Regions from separate parts of the Homo sapiens genome. Here region 2 is linked to region 1. Evidence: fine-mapped expression QTL. Tissue or cell type: whole blood. Region 1 holds a variant in brackets; the other region holds the start of a gene. All regions are shown on one strand. Distances are between the middles of the regions.

Region 1 (8,183 bases):
ACACACAGACATGTACACCCATGTTCGCTTTAGCATCTGATAGAAAAAGAGGAACATGAGGAAAGACAGAGATTGAGTCACCAACATGTGACCTGGTGATTTCTGAGTCCTCTGACTTTGAAATCAGTGGAAATTTAGAGCTCTACTTTGTCACTTGTAATGCTTTGTTGTTGCAAATAAATATTTTTGCAGCTGCATCACTTCATTGCTAATATATTTGAAGAAGGCAAGATAACCTAAAGGCATGAATCTTGTTCTGTTTTAATCCACCTGTAAGTCAGTGGTGGTTGTAAGGTAAATTGTAAGTAAGAGCTATTGGCCACCAAGTGCCAAGGGTTATGAATGATTTACCTTTTTTTTTTTTTCTAAACTGAAGGAAACTCATGGTTGTTCCTAGAAAAACATGCACACTCACTTGCTTGCATTCGGATAAGCTTCTTTGAGTAACAGGGAAGAGGCCACTAGGATTACAAGGCAGTTAGTGCCCATTGGAGTGTGACTGGCATTGTGCACCCTGTGAATCATAGTGGTGGTATGGGGAAAGGGGTAAAAAAGCATCAATCTATGGAGTATGCGAACCAGATGGCATCTGTCCTGGGAAGAACAAATATCCTTCATAGGAGAATTAGAGGACTATACTAGTCAGGCAGAAATCCAGTCCATTCATCAAGCTTTTCCTCTTGCTGTGGTCCCTACAGGGTCAGCCCTGTTTAGGCTCAAGCCTCTTAAATCCCAGTGCAAGACCAATTTCTCTATGAAATTCTCCCTGTCTTCTTTGGTCTCATGGCTACTTCCTGGGAGGAAAAAGTAGTAATCAGCTCCCTCCCCCCAGCTAAATGTGCATGGTATTAGCAAATTCTAACCCAAGATGTTAAAACTATCTGAGAAGAGGCATGATTCTGCTTCTTGTCTGTACCCTCCTAAAGTCAAGGTGCAGCAAGGAGAGAGACATTTGCATGTGGCCCCTGAGAAAGAAGAGATTTGTCTGCCTCACCCCCTGCTGGTGCAAACTTGCACCTCTCTCAGCCTCAGTTTTCTTATATGTATCAAGTTTCAATGATCGCAATAGTACTTATCTCATGTGACTACTGTGGGATTGAAACGAGATAGTTCATGTGAAGTACCGAGCACAGAGCCTGGCACACAGTAGGTACTCTATTAGTGTTAATATCACTGGAAAACCCAGCTGGGGGCTCAGCAGTAGAAGCTGCCAGAGCCTTAGTGTTACAGCCACATCCATTACCCCACCATTCACATACATTTCATGCCCCAGGGTGAGAATCCACATATCCCAAGCAGAGAGGCACAGCTTTGGTAAACTGAGTCTTAGCTAACTCATGTCAGAAACCAAGTGTTATCCTGGGGTTTGACTCCTGGCTCTTGCCACATTCATAGCAGGATGCTGAGTGGATTGTACTCAGCCTCACTTGTTGCATCTGTGAAATGGGGGTGATTTTTTGACTTCTCAAGGTATAGCATCTATTAAGGCACATAGACTACAATCTGACACAAATTAGCAGCTCCATACATTGCAGAATCTTTTCTTTTTCACTTAAGGAGATGCTAAAAGAGGCAAGAGGAAAGAAAATCAAATTTGGAGATGCCGTGGGCTGTGTGTTGAAGTTGGGCTCTGGTGGAATTGGTGGTGACCTTTTGCTTCTCTCCATCTGGATGGCTGTATCTTCAAAGACAACAAGTCTTAACTGCAGTTTTTGATTGTATAAATCTGGCCAAGTCCACTATTTACCCAGCCCAGTCTCCTTAGAGTAGGATTGGAAACTCAAACTTTGCTATCTCCTCTGCAGAGTGAGCAAGGGACAATCTTTATGAAAAACTTTAAGTTGCAAGATATTTGTGTTCTTAATAATGAAGGGAAGAATACAAAAATGATAATACTAAGCCTGGCTCATGGATAGCATTTTTGCACAATATATTTCATTTGGGCTGCAGCCTTTGAGCTGTACTAATTGCTCTGAGCATCTGTTTGTATGTCCGTTGCATGGGATGATTTACCCTCCTAGGTTTCCAAATGCTTTGGAGCCCCTGGTTTATTGCAGGACTTACTAAGTGGTGGCCATCGTCACTTTGATTGGCCCCTACCACAGTATTTTCCAGACTTTTCCACCAAGGCTCTTAGGGCTTTGTGGTGGGTGCCAGAACAATTGATGGGGTAGGGTGGGTGCTGGAAGAGAATGAGCATCTGGTAGATTGAGTCTCTGGGTCTGCCCTTCCACCCTCACTCCAGCCCCCATTAGCTCAGCTTGATTTTCAACCACTTGAAATACTGTGGTTGTGCCTAAGACATCATGTCAGGGAGAGAAAGAAACATCTGAAAACCATCAATCTTCTCTCTGAATGCTTCCACTGGTCCCATTTGCCTGTTGACAACCCAAGTTGAAAAGGCAGCACCAGAGGGGAATGGGGAAAATTAGCAGAACTGGAAAATCTGAGTTGAGATCTGGGTTTACCAAACTCTCCGTAAGACTTTGAGTCTGTGAAACTTATGTCCATTAGTTTCTTCACCTTTTAAATGGGTCTGTAGTACCTACCCTCTGGGCCTCACAGGCTGCTTTTGGGTGTGAAAGTGCTTTATAATTGGTGAAGGAAACTGCTACGTGGCAAGAATAGCAAAGCCTGATGTACTTTAATCCATTCGGTTCTGCTGAGGGTGGAGCCCCAATGTGTCTTAATTCATATGAGGTTTCTGAGAAGCTTTTTGAGATTTTAATACTGTCCCAGGTATGCACATCAACCTTCTCACTTTTATCCCCCAAGCTCCAAAATTTCATAACTTTTTATTTCATCTTGGGTGGCAGGAAGGCAAGGTGTGCCTGGGGGAGCTACAGGGAGTTATTCAAGGTCACATAATTAGCTTATAATTAACAGAGTTTAGGCTAGAACCAGTGCATCCCACTCCCAGATGGGGGCCCCCGGCTTATCTCAGCATGTCAGCAACCCATGAATCAGCCCTGAAATATAGATATTACCTATGAGTAACAGTTTCTCATCCTACCTCAACTGTTACGAAAGTCTTCCCTCAAACTAAAGCTAAGCAGTTCCACAAAATGCCAGCTATAGACATTAGCAGAAACTGTATATTGATTAGGTGATGTATCAGTCATTGTAACTACCCAGAAAAAAAAATACAATGACAAAACCAAGTGGCCCAACCTTATTTTCTACTTGCAAGAGGAAAAACCCTATTTGGGCCCCAAGATGCTTTTTTCATTTCATTTACCACATCCTGGGTTTGTGCTAGTCAATCTGCTAAATCAATAAGATCCGAAAAAGCAGAAAACAAAGATCGTGAGGCCAGAGGATTTCCTGATCACCA[T/C]GGCAACACACAGGGGTGGGTACTGTGGTTTCTCTGCCTGAAGACGCACTCGTCAAAGACTACTTGGTGTTACAGAATTCTGGTGCAGTGAAGCAACAGTTCTGGGACATATACTTTCTTTTGCCAGAAAGACTCTGTTGGATCCAGGACCAGGAGTGGGGGGTTAAACAGTTCTCCATACCCTCACCTCCAAGTCCCCATCATCCCATTAGGAGACAGGGACAGTACTGTTCTCCAAACTCTCAAAACAACCCAAGAGCTTTCTAGGCTGTGCATTGGGTTGATCATTTGGTGGCCTTGGCTGAAGGGCCAGGGTAACAGCTAGGAGAACCCTTGGGATTCTTCTCCAATGTGACAGGCCCCTCCATGTTGGTTCAGCGTTGACTGCCATGACAGGCTCCAGGCTCCACGGAAAAAAGGCAGAGAAATCAGGGGGTCCAGCCAGGCGCCAAGACGTTGGGGTGCCTTGCATTTCTAAGTGCCAAGTGATGAATAGCTCAGTTGAAAGCAACCCAGGGCACATTCTGGAGGAAATTCTCTGGGTATGATTGTGCATGACTGTTTTCTCTGCTCATTAAACCCTCATCTGCCTCCAGGGCAATTCCGGGAGAGACTGAGTCACTCAAGACTCATGGTCTGCACTGGGCAGCCAAAGGCGATTCGGCCACCAAGTGTGATTCTGGCCTCATTCAGAAGTGGATGCTAAACAATACACCCTTTCACCAGGAGCCCATCACATGGGCATCAGGAGATGGGGGCGAGTGATGTGCCAGCCTTCTAGACTGGCAGGCCTGGGGGGCAGCAGAGGGCACAATAGCTAGAAAGACTCCCAGATGAAAACTTCTGGGCTTTGAAGCCTTCGAACAAATGAAGAAGAAAATGACTTCTTCGTGTCCTATTAAGACAGTGAGTTGTGGCTTTTTTGAGAGCAGCTTGCTCAGACCTCTTATGAAAGATAGATCAGTAGCAACAGCACTGGTGTAGGAGTCAGAAATCTGCAATTATGAACCACTGAGTTTTGTGTGTGTGTGTGTGTGTTTTTGTTTTTGTTTTTTGTTTGTTTTGTTTTGTTTTTTAACTTGCTGGAGGACCATACTCGGCTATCCTTGATTTTATTTTCTCCTGTGTCACAAGAGAAATTGGTTAGAAGCTTCCCATTGTGCCTCCTGGCTTTAAAAATAGATAATCCAATTAACAATAATGCTTTAAAACAACAAAACCTTGTCCTTTTCCCTTCCTACTTCTGATCAGAACCAGCTCAGTAAGATTTATTAGTTGTGCAATCTGTTTTGGACATGAGCTCAGCAAATCAGAGGACAGAAATAGAATCCTGGCTTTTTAATGATAAACACTGTAAAAATAAAAAATTTGGAGAGCTTACCAGTGCTTCTGGCTGCCCAAGTGGTTTGTGTGTGGTTGACTCCCAGGAGCTCAATCACTTTGGGTGCAGTCCACCCAGAGAGCTATGTTCCAGCTACATCAACCTGGAGCCTTAGCTTGGTCAGTCTAGATTTTTGGGTTTGGCTGCAGACATCTCGTAATGTCACAAGGACAGCCTGTGTCCTTGGTGACCCAACCCTGGGCCAACCCCAAGTCCTGGAGTCCTCTCCTAAGAGCCCTGCCTAATTGTAGAGAGAGCATTCAGGCTGTAAAGGGCAGGAGGCCTGGGGGCTACGACTAGGTTTGGGCTTTCTAAATTCCCAAGAGTATGATGGGAAGACCAACAGGCAGAATCAGAGAGAAGCAGTCAGCCCACTGCTGGGGAAAGCCAGTCAAGGTCAAGACTTCAGAATCTCCTCTCTGGAGAGAGAGTGAAAATTCCATTAGTGAAGTTTGTTCCACTGAAGCCTTACCAGGCCTTGGTAAAGGCCCCTATCTTGTGGTCCAGAATCAAGGGACTTCTGATCTTAAAATAATATTCAATAAGCTCAAATTCTTCTCTCTAGGGCTCTCTTTTCATGATCACCTCTCCACACTTTATTAAAAAATCACATGAAGGGTAAGTGGGCTTCCTGTCATTTCAGTGTCTGACCTGTGCATAAGTTGGAATTTAACACTGGAAAATGATCAGCCAGATTGCCCAGTCTGAAACCCAGGTCCCCCAGTGACTAGCACAAGTTACTTACATCTTCTCAATGAATCAGTTACCTCTTGTGTAAAATGGGGATAATAAAAATGCCTGCCACACAGGATTGTTAGGAAAATTAAGTGAAATATTAGGTGTAAAGTGCTGAATACCTTGAACCCAGACTAGGCACTCAGTGAGTGCTCACTGTGGTTATGGACCAGGAGCTGCAGGAATTAGAACACCATTGAGTAGCAGGAACTGGCTTTATTCTCATCTTCATGATAAAGCAACTTCTCCTTACATATAGCTTAATCTGGAACCAAAAATCTAATTCTGCCTCATCCCTCCTGAGGAGATGACAAATAGGGATCAGGCACACCTGGGTGGCTCAAGTTAGAAAACAAATTAACTCATTTTGCAGAATCTGGAGACGTCTGGTCTGGAGAACTGACAGTGCCCTCTCTTTGGGCATAGTATGACTGTAGGTTGTCTTTGGGTGGTCTTCATATGGAATGTACTGTGTTTGCCATGTTCCCTAGGAGATCTGGCCTCAGAAATGGCCCTGTGATGGTATGTGAACATACTGTCCTGTAACTGAGATGATAGCTTGCACATTCAGACAGACAAAGCCAGTTACAAAACTAAAAGTTGGTCTCTGAAACATTTGCTTTCGGGGAAAACAGCAAATGTTCACAGAAGCAAAGTTCTGGGTTAAAGACATTTTAAGTATCCAATAAGGAATTCTCAGCAAACACCAGCTGGTGATTCCTCAGATATGATGTGGGAAAGGAACCTGATAGGTGATCTTTTTGCACCCTATAAGACTGCAGCCTGTCGGGGGTTGGGGGCAGAAAGAGAGCATTTATTAATTCATTATTTCATTCAACATTTGCCTACCATGGGAGGCTGTACTAGGTACTGGGAATATAATTGTGAAGAAGGGAGACACCATTTCTGTTGTCAACGAAGCCCACAGAGAAGTTCCAAAATTTCAGAATGCTGGAATTTCTGGTTACTAGAGACCTTGAAGATAATAATTTCTTGTAATTCTTTACCTGGTTGTGTCACAGACTTTGAAAACCAATGAAAACCAGAGATGTTGCCCTACCTAAACACACACACACACACACACACACACACATCCATACACACAATCTTGCATATAATCTCACAGGTCCATGGATGTATTGACCAGCTCCTGGATTCCATATTGAAAATCCCTTGCAGCCCAGCTCCAATACTAGTACCAGGCCACTCACCTCTCAGGAAAGTTTGGGAAGACGTAGATAATGGCAACTTGGGTGAAAATTACACAGTGCTCTCTTCCCAGCACATGTTGTGATTTTCTACAACTTCAGAAATAACTGGGGTGGACCAAGAAGCTATTATTCCTCGCAGGCCCTACAATCTAGGCAAAGCTTTGAAATGTGCTCGGACAATTTTATCAGAGATCTATTTTCCTTGATCTGAGGCTTAGGGGGCAGTATAGATGAGATTAATGGCATTTGGGATCAGTGATGGTTTATCCAGGAGAGAATGCATAGTACCTGTAACCAGGAGCCTGAATAGGAGGCAACATAGCATAGAGGTTAGAATCCTGACTTTCCCACTTGGATGACATTGGGCAAAGGACTTCACCACTTTGTGCCTCAGTTTCCTCATCTCTAAAATGGGTTTAGCAATAGTGCCTACCTCATAGCATTTTTATGAGAATTAAATTAGCTGAAGTACATAAGGCACCTAATAAGTGTGCAATGCTCATTGGCTCTGATTATTAAGTGTCAAACACCATATCAAGTGTTTGACATACCTTATTTCATGTAATAGTCCCATAAACCCTGACAGGTTCGCATTGTCATCCCATCAAGGAAGAGGTGGAGAGTCAGAGAGGTTAAGTAATTAACAACCTGTGTCACCTAAAGTGAGTGGCAGGGTCAGGAATTGAACCAGGTTTGAGGAGGTCCTAACTAGGTTGAACTACTGACCTTCATAAAAGTTTGGCACTACAGACCAGCTTTATAGGACAAAAAAACCTTCTTTCAGAGCTCCTTTTTCTCGCCTTCCTGACAGCTCCCTAGCAGACCTCTTCCCATGTGGGTAGGGAGATAAGGTTCCTAGACACTGGGACACTGGTCTCCATGACCCCTCTGTGCTGCCCACAGCCCTATAGTAATGAGCGTGCTAAAGGCCTGGTGGCATTTCTACCACGGGAAGTCTCCTCTCCAAATCCAAAAGTGGCCTCAAACAGTCAGTGTTTTCAGTTGAGCTCATTTATCGCTCAGAGGGAGGCACTTGGGACATTTTATTCATTACATGATGCAGGAGATTTATTGGAGACCAGAGGGCTCAACGGAAAACATTCTTGGTTTATTTCCAGCCAGAAAGGCTTGTTTGAGAGATGCAATCAGCCATTTAGTATTAGCTTCTTGAATCAAAGTGGATCCTGAATCACAGAGTTCTCTGTTTCTCAGGAGAGACACACAGACATCTGAGGAGTCTTGCCTCTCTATAGTGGTTTGCAGCATGGCTAGCACCATTGCCAGAGACACTGGCACTCTGTCAAGCAATGTTCTGTGGTCCATGGCTATTCACATCTTAACCTTGCCTTAATTCTACTTCATTGTGAGTTTGGGCATGTTTCTTTATTTCTTCCCCTCTCTGTGTGTTAGTTTCTCCATCTGGAAAATGAGGATACTAATATTACCCACCTCATAGGAATGTTTTAAGGATAAAATGAGTAAATAATTCTAAAGTGCCTAAAATAGAGCCTGGCATATACAC
Region 2 (8,183 bases), 28 kb before region 1:
ATAACAGTCCCTCATACATTTATGTAATGCTTATTTATGGAGCACAGTGTATATGTTAGGGACTGAGAGCTGAGTATGTGCTGGCACCCCAGAAGGACATGTCCCTGTTCTCAGGTAGCTTAGAGGTCATTGAGTCCCACCATGAGGCAGGCACACCAGGAAATGGTCTTGATGTCTTCTTTCACTGACTACTCATAATAAACTATGGGAAAGGTCTGATTACCCTTGTTTTGTGGCTGGGATTACCGAAACTCCCAGAGGTTAAGTCATCCTCTGATAAGGGGGAAAGCCAATGCTCAGACCTGGACTTTCTCGGTCCAAGGCTGCTGATTGAATTCTGGATTCTTCCCAAATAGTGTAATCTCGTGTCAACTCAAATCAATTCAAGTTTCCTTTCCAGTTTCCCACATCCCATGGTTTGGCTTAGAAAGAAAGATGGTGCAACACACAACAGATATCAAGCATCTAAGAGTTTGGGAAGGGTTTGTGTGACCAGTGGTGTGGGCAGGGTGTCTTTAGAATGGAAAGTGGATGAGAGGGGAGCTCAAAGAGGTGATCCAGGAATTCCCAAAGGTGGACCTTGACTCAGTAAGTCACCAGGTCTGTTATTTGAAATGAGTCATTTGTGGTATGGGGGCAAATGACCTCAGTCCCTCACCAAACTATCGGGAAGCAAGCAAACAAAATAATCCCCGCTTCTGGGGAGAATAATCCTAATTACAGCCCCTAGAATTTGCATGCCCTTCTACAGTTTGCAAAGCACTTTCACACCTATATTTTCCTTGGTGGAATTGTTTACTGCACTAATGGAGAAGGGACCAGGACTTGATATGGCCTAGTTTGTTGGTTTTTATATATTTTTTAAGAATAATCATCTGTCAAAATGTAATTTCATGCAATAGTCTGGTATATAAAACTGATGCAAGTGGAACTTCTGTGGTTGGGATGGGGCCTGGGGAGGGAGAGGCACAGCTTACTCCTCAGCTTTTACTCTGACCACTAGGTCTGCTTCTGAGGGGTCTCTAAGGAACCTCCAGGTTCCATGAAACACAGTAAGACAGACATTGTTCCTAGTGACTCCCCACGTCACTTCACTTTCTTGCTCCAAGAAAAGGAAGCTGAAATCCCTGGAGGTTGCATGAGGTGAAAAAAGCTGCTCCTTGTCCTGTATTCTTGTGCATGGAACCTACCAGGGCTGGTTTCCTCACATGAGTAGGGACTGAAGCCTTATCTGGGAGCCAGTTTGCCCCCAGTTGTTTCAAGAAATAAAGTGTCCTCTTGGTCACAGACAGCAGCAGTAACAACTTTTTCCTGCGGACTGGCAGCATTTTCCAAGCACCTGCTCTTCAGGTGGGAGTTACGGGTCACTGTCTTCATTCCAGACGGGCGGCTCTTTGAGTCATGGCATGCCAGCTTCTGAGTGGCTGAGGACTAGATCCAGACAAGGATTTTTCAGTCCCAAACACTCTTCCTGAAAATGCAAGAGGAGTAGTCTTTAGTCAAACAGAATCTCCACAACTGAAAAATTTATACCGGACTAGACAGTGGTAGTGGTTGCACAATATTGTTAAAGTACTACACGTCACTGCTATAAACACTTTTAAATGGGTGAAATGGTAAATTTTATGTTATGCATATTTTAACATAACAATGATAATAATTTTAACTAAGTACGTTGCCTCCTTATTTCCTACAGGGTCAAGTTCAAACTCCCTGGCATAGCTTACACCTTGTAGTCCCCATACCTGTAACCTCATGTCTGCTATCTTCCCCCAGCCCCTTCATCTGATCTATGTTCAGATCAGCTCACATTGCTCTCTATTCTCTGGACAAGCCATGTTCTTTCACTTTTCTATGCTCAAACACAATTTTGCTTTTAGTAATGATAGCAAACACTTATTTAAAGTGCTTACTGCATGCATATGTAGACATAAATCTACGGCTTAATACATGCAGGGCTTTTGAGTCATTTAATCCTCACCAATTCTATGAAGTAATAGAATTGTAATAGTAATAATAGATACTATTATTAAGCCCATTTTATACTTGAGCAAATTGAGCTAATTGCCTTAGGCAAGGTCACACAACTAAGAAGCAGCCATAATAGGGTTTGGATCTAGGTGTTCTAGCTCCTGAATCCATGCTGTTCGTCACTACACTGTACTGCCTGTGGATGACTTACTTGTCCCTGTAGTTTCATCTGAAGAATTCCTCCTCCTTTTCCTTTGAGGCCTGCCTCAAATATCACTTCCCCTGTGAAGACTGCCTGGTGTTCTCCAGGAGAGAGTGTGACTCCCTTCTCTAGGAATGGTAGCACCCCAAACACACACATTTTGCAGCATATTTCACCTTGCATGGTAATGGCCTGCTTGTGAGTTTTATTCCGTACCAGAGGGTGAGGGCTCTGAAGATAGCGCCAGGTCTTATTTACCTCGATACCCCACAACACTCATTACATGTCTGATGAATGAATGCATAGGGGGATGGCTGGGTGCATTTCTCTCAACTTTTCAATTTCTTGAAATAAATAACAAAATCTTACCTTCCCTCAGAAGTCCTGGCATGGTTCCTTTCATCTTGCCACAGCCACTGATAATCACTTTCATTTTCTGTGTAACTCACCAGGCAAGAAGTCCATGCAGATTTACTTTTAGTAGTTCACATGACAAATAAATACTGCGTTTGATTTCCAAACATTAAACCATAGTATATTATAGATAGATATAGAGTTATCATTCAAAGTATGATATTTCAATCTCAAAAGGCTTCCCCTGAAGAATATTACAAACTCTTCCTCTCTTTAAGATCTGCTGGGTAGGAAAGATGGGAGAAAATGAATTAATGTTTACACAGAAAGGAGGATAATGGGGGCAAAAATAATAGATGAACGTATGGGTGGATGAGAGAATGGATAAAATGATAGGTGGATATGTTGATCTTGGACAGATGGGAAATGAGTGGATATATCAATAAACAGATATGTGGGTGGATGGGTGGAGAAGAGGATGGTGGATGGTTGTGGTTTTATGAAGAGATGTGAAAAAGGAAGTGTGGAATGATGGATGAGAAGTTGTATGGGAAGATGAATAGAAGAATAGGTGGTTGAATAAATTAAAAGGTGTGTGGTTGGATGAATGAATGAGTGGGATGATAGATGGACCTAAGTGGTTAGTGGATGGACAGGAGGATGGATGGATGTGAGAGCCCCAGAAGGACATAAGGAAAGATGGGTGGATAGATGGATGGGCGGATGGAAGGATATTTAGGAGGATGAATGAGCATGTGTGTGGAGAGAGGTGCCCATTCACACTGGCTTGAACACATGGGTTAGCTGAGCCAAATGCCAGCCCTATGACAGGCCATCAGTAGCTTTCCCTGAGCTGTTCTGCCAAGAAGCTAAAATTCATTCAAGCCATGTGGACTTGTTATTGAGGGGAAAAAGAATGAGCTCTCCCTCTTTCCACTTGGAAGATTCACCAACTCCCCACCCCTCACTCCCCACTGTGGGCACGGAGGCACTGCGCCACCCAGGGCAAGACCTCGCCCTCTCTCCAGCTCCTCTCCCAGGATATCCAACATCCTGTGAAACCCAGAGATCTTGCTCCAGCCGGATTCAGAGAAATTTAGCGGGAAAGGAGAGGCCAAAGGCTGAACCCAATGGTGCAAGGTTTTACGGTTCGGTCATCCTCTGTCCTGACGCCGCGGGGCCAGCGGGAGAAGAAAGCCAGTGCGTCTCTGGGCGCAGGGGCCAGTGGGGCTCGGAGGCACAGGCACCCCGCGACACTCCAGGTTCCCCGACCCACGTCCCTGGCAGCCCCGATTATTTACAGCCTCAGCAGAGCACGGGGCGGGGGCAGAGGGGCCCGCCCGGGAGGGCTGCTACTTCTTAAAACCTCTGCGGGCTGCTTAGTCACAGCCCCCCTTGCTTGGGTGTGTCCTTCGCTCGCTCCCTCCCTCCGTCTTAGGTCACTGTTTTCAACCTCGAATAAAAACTGCAGCCAACTTCCGAGGCAGCCTCATTGCCCAGCGGACCCCAGCCTCTGCCAGGTTCGGTCCGCCATCCTCGTCCCGTCCTCCGCCGGCCCCTGCCCCGCGCCCAGGGATCCTCCAGCTCCTTTCGCCCGCGCCCTCCGTTCGCTCCGGACACCATGGACAAGTTTTGGTGGCACGCAGCCTGGGGACTCTGCCTCGTGCCGCTGAGCCTGGCGCAGATCGGTGAGTGCCCGCCGCAGCCTGGGCAGCAAGATGGGTGCGGGGTGCTCAGCGCGGACCCGGCGGCAGCCCCTCCGGCTGAGTCGGCCCTGGGGGACTGGAGTCAAGTGAGCTGTCTGCGAAGTGCATTGGGCTCCGGAAAGCAGGGCTGGGATTTGCGCTAAACCGTTGGAGAATGTGTCTGTGGAAGCACCATTTGGTTGAAAGAAAAAGAGAAAGAGAAGAAAGTTTGTTGGGCAGGCTGCCGGCGCGCAGTTTTGGGCGAGGTCGCTAGAGCTGCAGCACATGGCAGAAAGTAACCGTTCTCCCGGATGCGCACAGTCGTTGTCTGGACTAACAGGCTCCTGTGCCCAAGGGCTCGCCAAGCCCCACCGGGCTGTGTCTAGGCAGGGCAGAGCTGGGCGGGGCAGAGACTGGGGCTGGAACAGGGCGAGTGGCTGTTATCAAGGTGGTCACAGAAGGGATCACAATTCCAAGTGTGAGACTAGCTGGCAATGGGTTTTCCAGAAAGGGGTCCTGGGTTCTCCCAGCTCCCCACTGAGCCTTGTTCCAAAGCTTACAGTCCGCAGTGTCACTGCCACCTTAGCGCTGTGGAAGCTTGAACCAGCTCTGCGGTGAGGTCTTGGGTCTCCATGAGATTCCAGCCTGGGATAGGGAGCATGAATATGAGAGGCAACCACTGGACCAGCTGCTTGGTCCTCACCACCTCCTGCTTCTGCCAATCAGTGTGGGGAAATCTCAACAGTAAGGTGGCTTATATTCCCTGCCTGGCAGCCTCAGAGCAGAGAGAAGAGCCTTGATACCAGGGCAACATCAGGGACCCTGGAGCTAGGGCTCCAATATCTCATCCAAACAGGGTCAGTGCTTTGTGGTGGCTATGGAGGGGAGGGGCTGCGTGTAAGGTATATTCTAGCACGGCTCAACTCCAAGCATTCTCTTTCTTTGTCTATGTATGTACAGATAATTACATGGCCGATTTGCTTATCGCTGGCCAAAATTAATCTTTCTTTTAAGAAGTGCCAGCTGGGTCATTAAGACAGCTCAGCCTGCATGCAGTAAATTCTACTCAGCAAATATTTATTAACCCAGTTCCACGGGAGTACTGAGAAATTGAAACACACAGTCTCACCCAGGTAGTTTAGATTGAGTACCCAGTATAAAGTATCTTGAATTACTTTCTGCTTTCTCTATCTTCCTACTTTCTGCAGTAGGAAGAAAGTGACCCTAGGTGGAGGCTAGGCAGGATGAGTTCTCTGTGCATATGCATCTCCCTTTCTGTGTGAGTGAGAGGTCTTTGCTAGGTGGGGATTTGGGGATCTAGGATTTATACTACTGAAGCTGAAATAATAATAATAATGATAGCAACAACACAGCCTGTCATGGTGGCCCATGCCTGTAATCCTAGGACTTTGGGAGGCTGAGGCAGCAAATTACCCAAGGTCAGGAGTTTGAGACCAGCCTTGGCCAACATGGTGAAACCCCATCTTTACAAAAAATACAAAAATTAGCAGGGTGTGGTGGTGCACACCTGTAGTCCCAGCTGCTTGGGACGCTGAGGCAGGAGAATTGCTTGAACCTAGGAGGTGAAGGTTGCAGTGAACCAAGATTATGCCATTGCACTCCAGCCTGGGTGACAAAGCGTGACTCTGTTAAAAAAAAAAAAATGAATACAGTGCTAGCTACCATTTACTGTATATTTTCACTGTGCCAGGCATTATGTTAAATATTTTCCATGTGTTATCTCATTCTACCCTCACAATGGCCTAGTAAGAAGCTTCCTGTTATCAGGCCTGTTTGACAGGAGGAAAACTGATGCTTAGAGACGTTAAGTGACTTGCTGGCATTCACATAGCCAGGAGCAGTGCTGGATGGAAACCCAGCTCCACTGAGCTCCAAAGCCTAGGCTTAGAATATGTTAGACTGTATAAGATGGACGAACTTGGAAGGATTTCAGGGAGGGAAGGATTTTGGTGGACTCTAGGCCTTAGGGAAAGTTCCAAAAGGGACTGGAGCTCAAATAAGCCCTTGAAAAGTGGAAACATTCAGGATGGGAGAGAAGAGTCAAGCTGGAGATCAGGGAGAGCCCTGGGCCTGGCCTGAAAGAAGAGGGCCCTGGTGGTTTCCCTATAGTCTCTAGGGAAGTTTATTTGTATGTTACCTACCAGTGCCATCTTCTGCTTTGTCTTTGGGCATTCTGACTCCTGACTCCTTCCAACCTGTCTCCCCGTTCCTTCTAAAAGGCCCCACTTCCAAATATTTGGCACTGTCCTAACCCTTGAGGTTCTCCCAGAGACCCGCAGTCTCCCTCCTGCCCCGTGTTTCCACGGCCCCTTTGCGCAGCATCATTTAGAGGAAGTACAATGAAGTGCCAGTAGCAATAACTGCCCCGGCCCTCGCTTTCATGTGCTTGTAAAGTTGTTTGGCAGGAACTGGGACTTGGAAAGGAGACATGACTTTGTCAGAGGGCTTGGGGCTGGGCATGGTGTGGGTGGCGAAGGGGAGAAGGAGGAAAGGGGAAGGAAAGGAGCTCTTGTTGCCCCATTCTGGGGAGTGGTGGACTCTGGACAACCACGAGGAAACTTTGGAAAGGAGCAAGGCTTTGAGGAGGAGTCCAGTCTTTGTATGGGAAAGCAAAAAGTGGAGAAATGGCCAAATGTAGTTAAGTGACATTGGACCCAGAAACTCTGAGTTGGGGAACAGATATCTTGAATTCGGGGTCTTGTGCAGGAGGAAGAAAGTGGCCCTTGGTGGAGGCCAGGGGGGATGAGTCCTTCATGCACATGCATCTCCTTGTCTCTGTGGGTGAGGGGATCTTTTTTTTTAATTATTATTATACTTTAAGTTTTAGGGTTCAACCATTGTGGAAGTCAGTGTGGCGATTCCTCAGGGATCTAGAACTAGAAATACCATTTGACCCAGCCATCCCATTACTGGGTATATACCCAAAGGACTACAAATCATGCTGCTATAAAGACACATGCACATGTATGTTTATTGTGGCATTATTCACAATAGCAAAGACTTGGAACCAACCCAAATGTCCAACAATGATAGACTGGGTGAGGGGATCTTTGCTTGGGAATTGCATGCCTGGTGTTGAGAAAGAGGAGAGCGTCTGAGAGCCCTGGGTCTTAGGGCTGGCACACACCTTTCTGCTCCCTTCTCTCTAATTGAGCATTAGAGACTCCGCCCCCTGCTGGGAGTTAGAACTTTAGCTGTGTTTTCCCATGTGAAGGAGCAAAGAGGCAAAGCTTCATCTCTGTTGGGGCTAGCATCAACTAATTCAGGTATTCCCCATTTACACATTGGACATCTACTTGCTGCAAAGGCATGGTGACAAGTCCTTGTGTGGGAGGCTGGCAGCCAGTAGGAAAATGTTCCATTTGTTTTTTCCCAAATTTCCCCACAAAGGAGGGGATGCTGGACAGCATGAAATTCTTAGTTCATGACAGATTCCCTTCCATTCATTCAGGAACTATTTCCTGACTCATTGTCATAGACTCAGAGATGGGAACTCTAAGGATCATTTAGAAAATCTGAAAGAGAGGGACTAGTGACTTCCCCTCTCTGCGACTTGTTAAGATATTAGGGCAGGGCATTTCTCTCATGTATCTCTATCATGAGGACTGTGGGAGCCTCAACCCCACCCCCTGCAGTGGGTGGGGAGGGTGTGGTCTACTGGGGTAACAACATTTGTTTCACACCTTAAATACTACCTTACAGACTCATTACAGTTTTATATATTACTCTACAATATACCCAATTTGAGTTTAATACAATAATAATGATATATATTTTTGACCATATAGCAATGTTGGTGTTCGACAATGATTCTCTGTATTGTCCTGGGGCTTCTAGCACCTCCTGGAACATCGCTAGATGGTCAGGAGCACCAAAGTTTTAAAAACCTGATGCTCTGCTGTGGTACCATATGGTCCTGTGTAAAGCAGGGTCCTAAGTCCTGAGTCTCT

The links. PIP is the estimated chance that this variant, and not a neighbour inherited with it, causes the effect.
Region 2: CD44 starts here. The variant in region 1 is fine-mapped to the expression of CD44 in whole blood (TOPMed, PIP above 0.99).

Annotation. Positions count from the first base shown.
Region 1 is chr11:35,162,900-35,171,082 of GRCh38, forward strand. All of the region lies in intron 1 of CD44 (CD44 molecule (IN blood group)), which reads left to right. It overlaps SNORD164 (small nucleolar RNA, C/D box 164), which reads left to right and starts at 51; the gene lies at 51-111. RefSeq lists a silencer at 2,660-2,709 and an enhancer at 3,130-3,189. The variant T/C (reference allele first, on the strand shown) is at 3,335.
Region 2 is chr11:35,135,156-35,143,338 of GRCh38, forward strand. CD44 (CD44 molecule (IN blood group)) reads left to right here and starts at 4,016. Exons shown (of 18, transcript NM_000610.4): 1 at 4,016-4,215. The coding sequence starts at 4,149. It overlaps CD44-DT (CD44 divergent transcript), which reads right to left and starts at 2,877. Exons shown (of 3, transcript NR_120528.1): 1 at 2,543-2,877; 2 at 1,191-1,471. RefSeq lists enhancers at 3,181-3,745, 4,913-5,413 and a silencer at 3,656-3,725.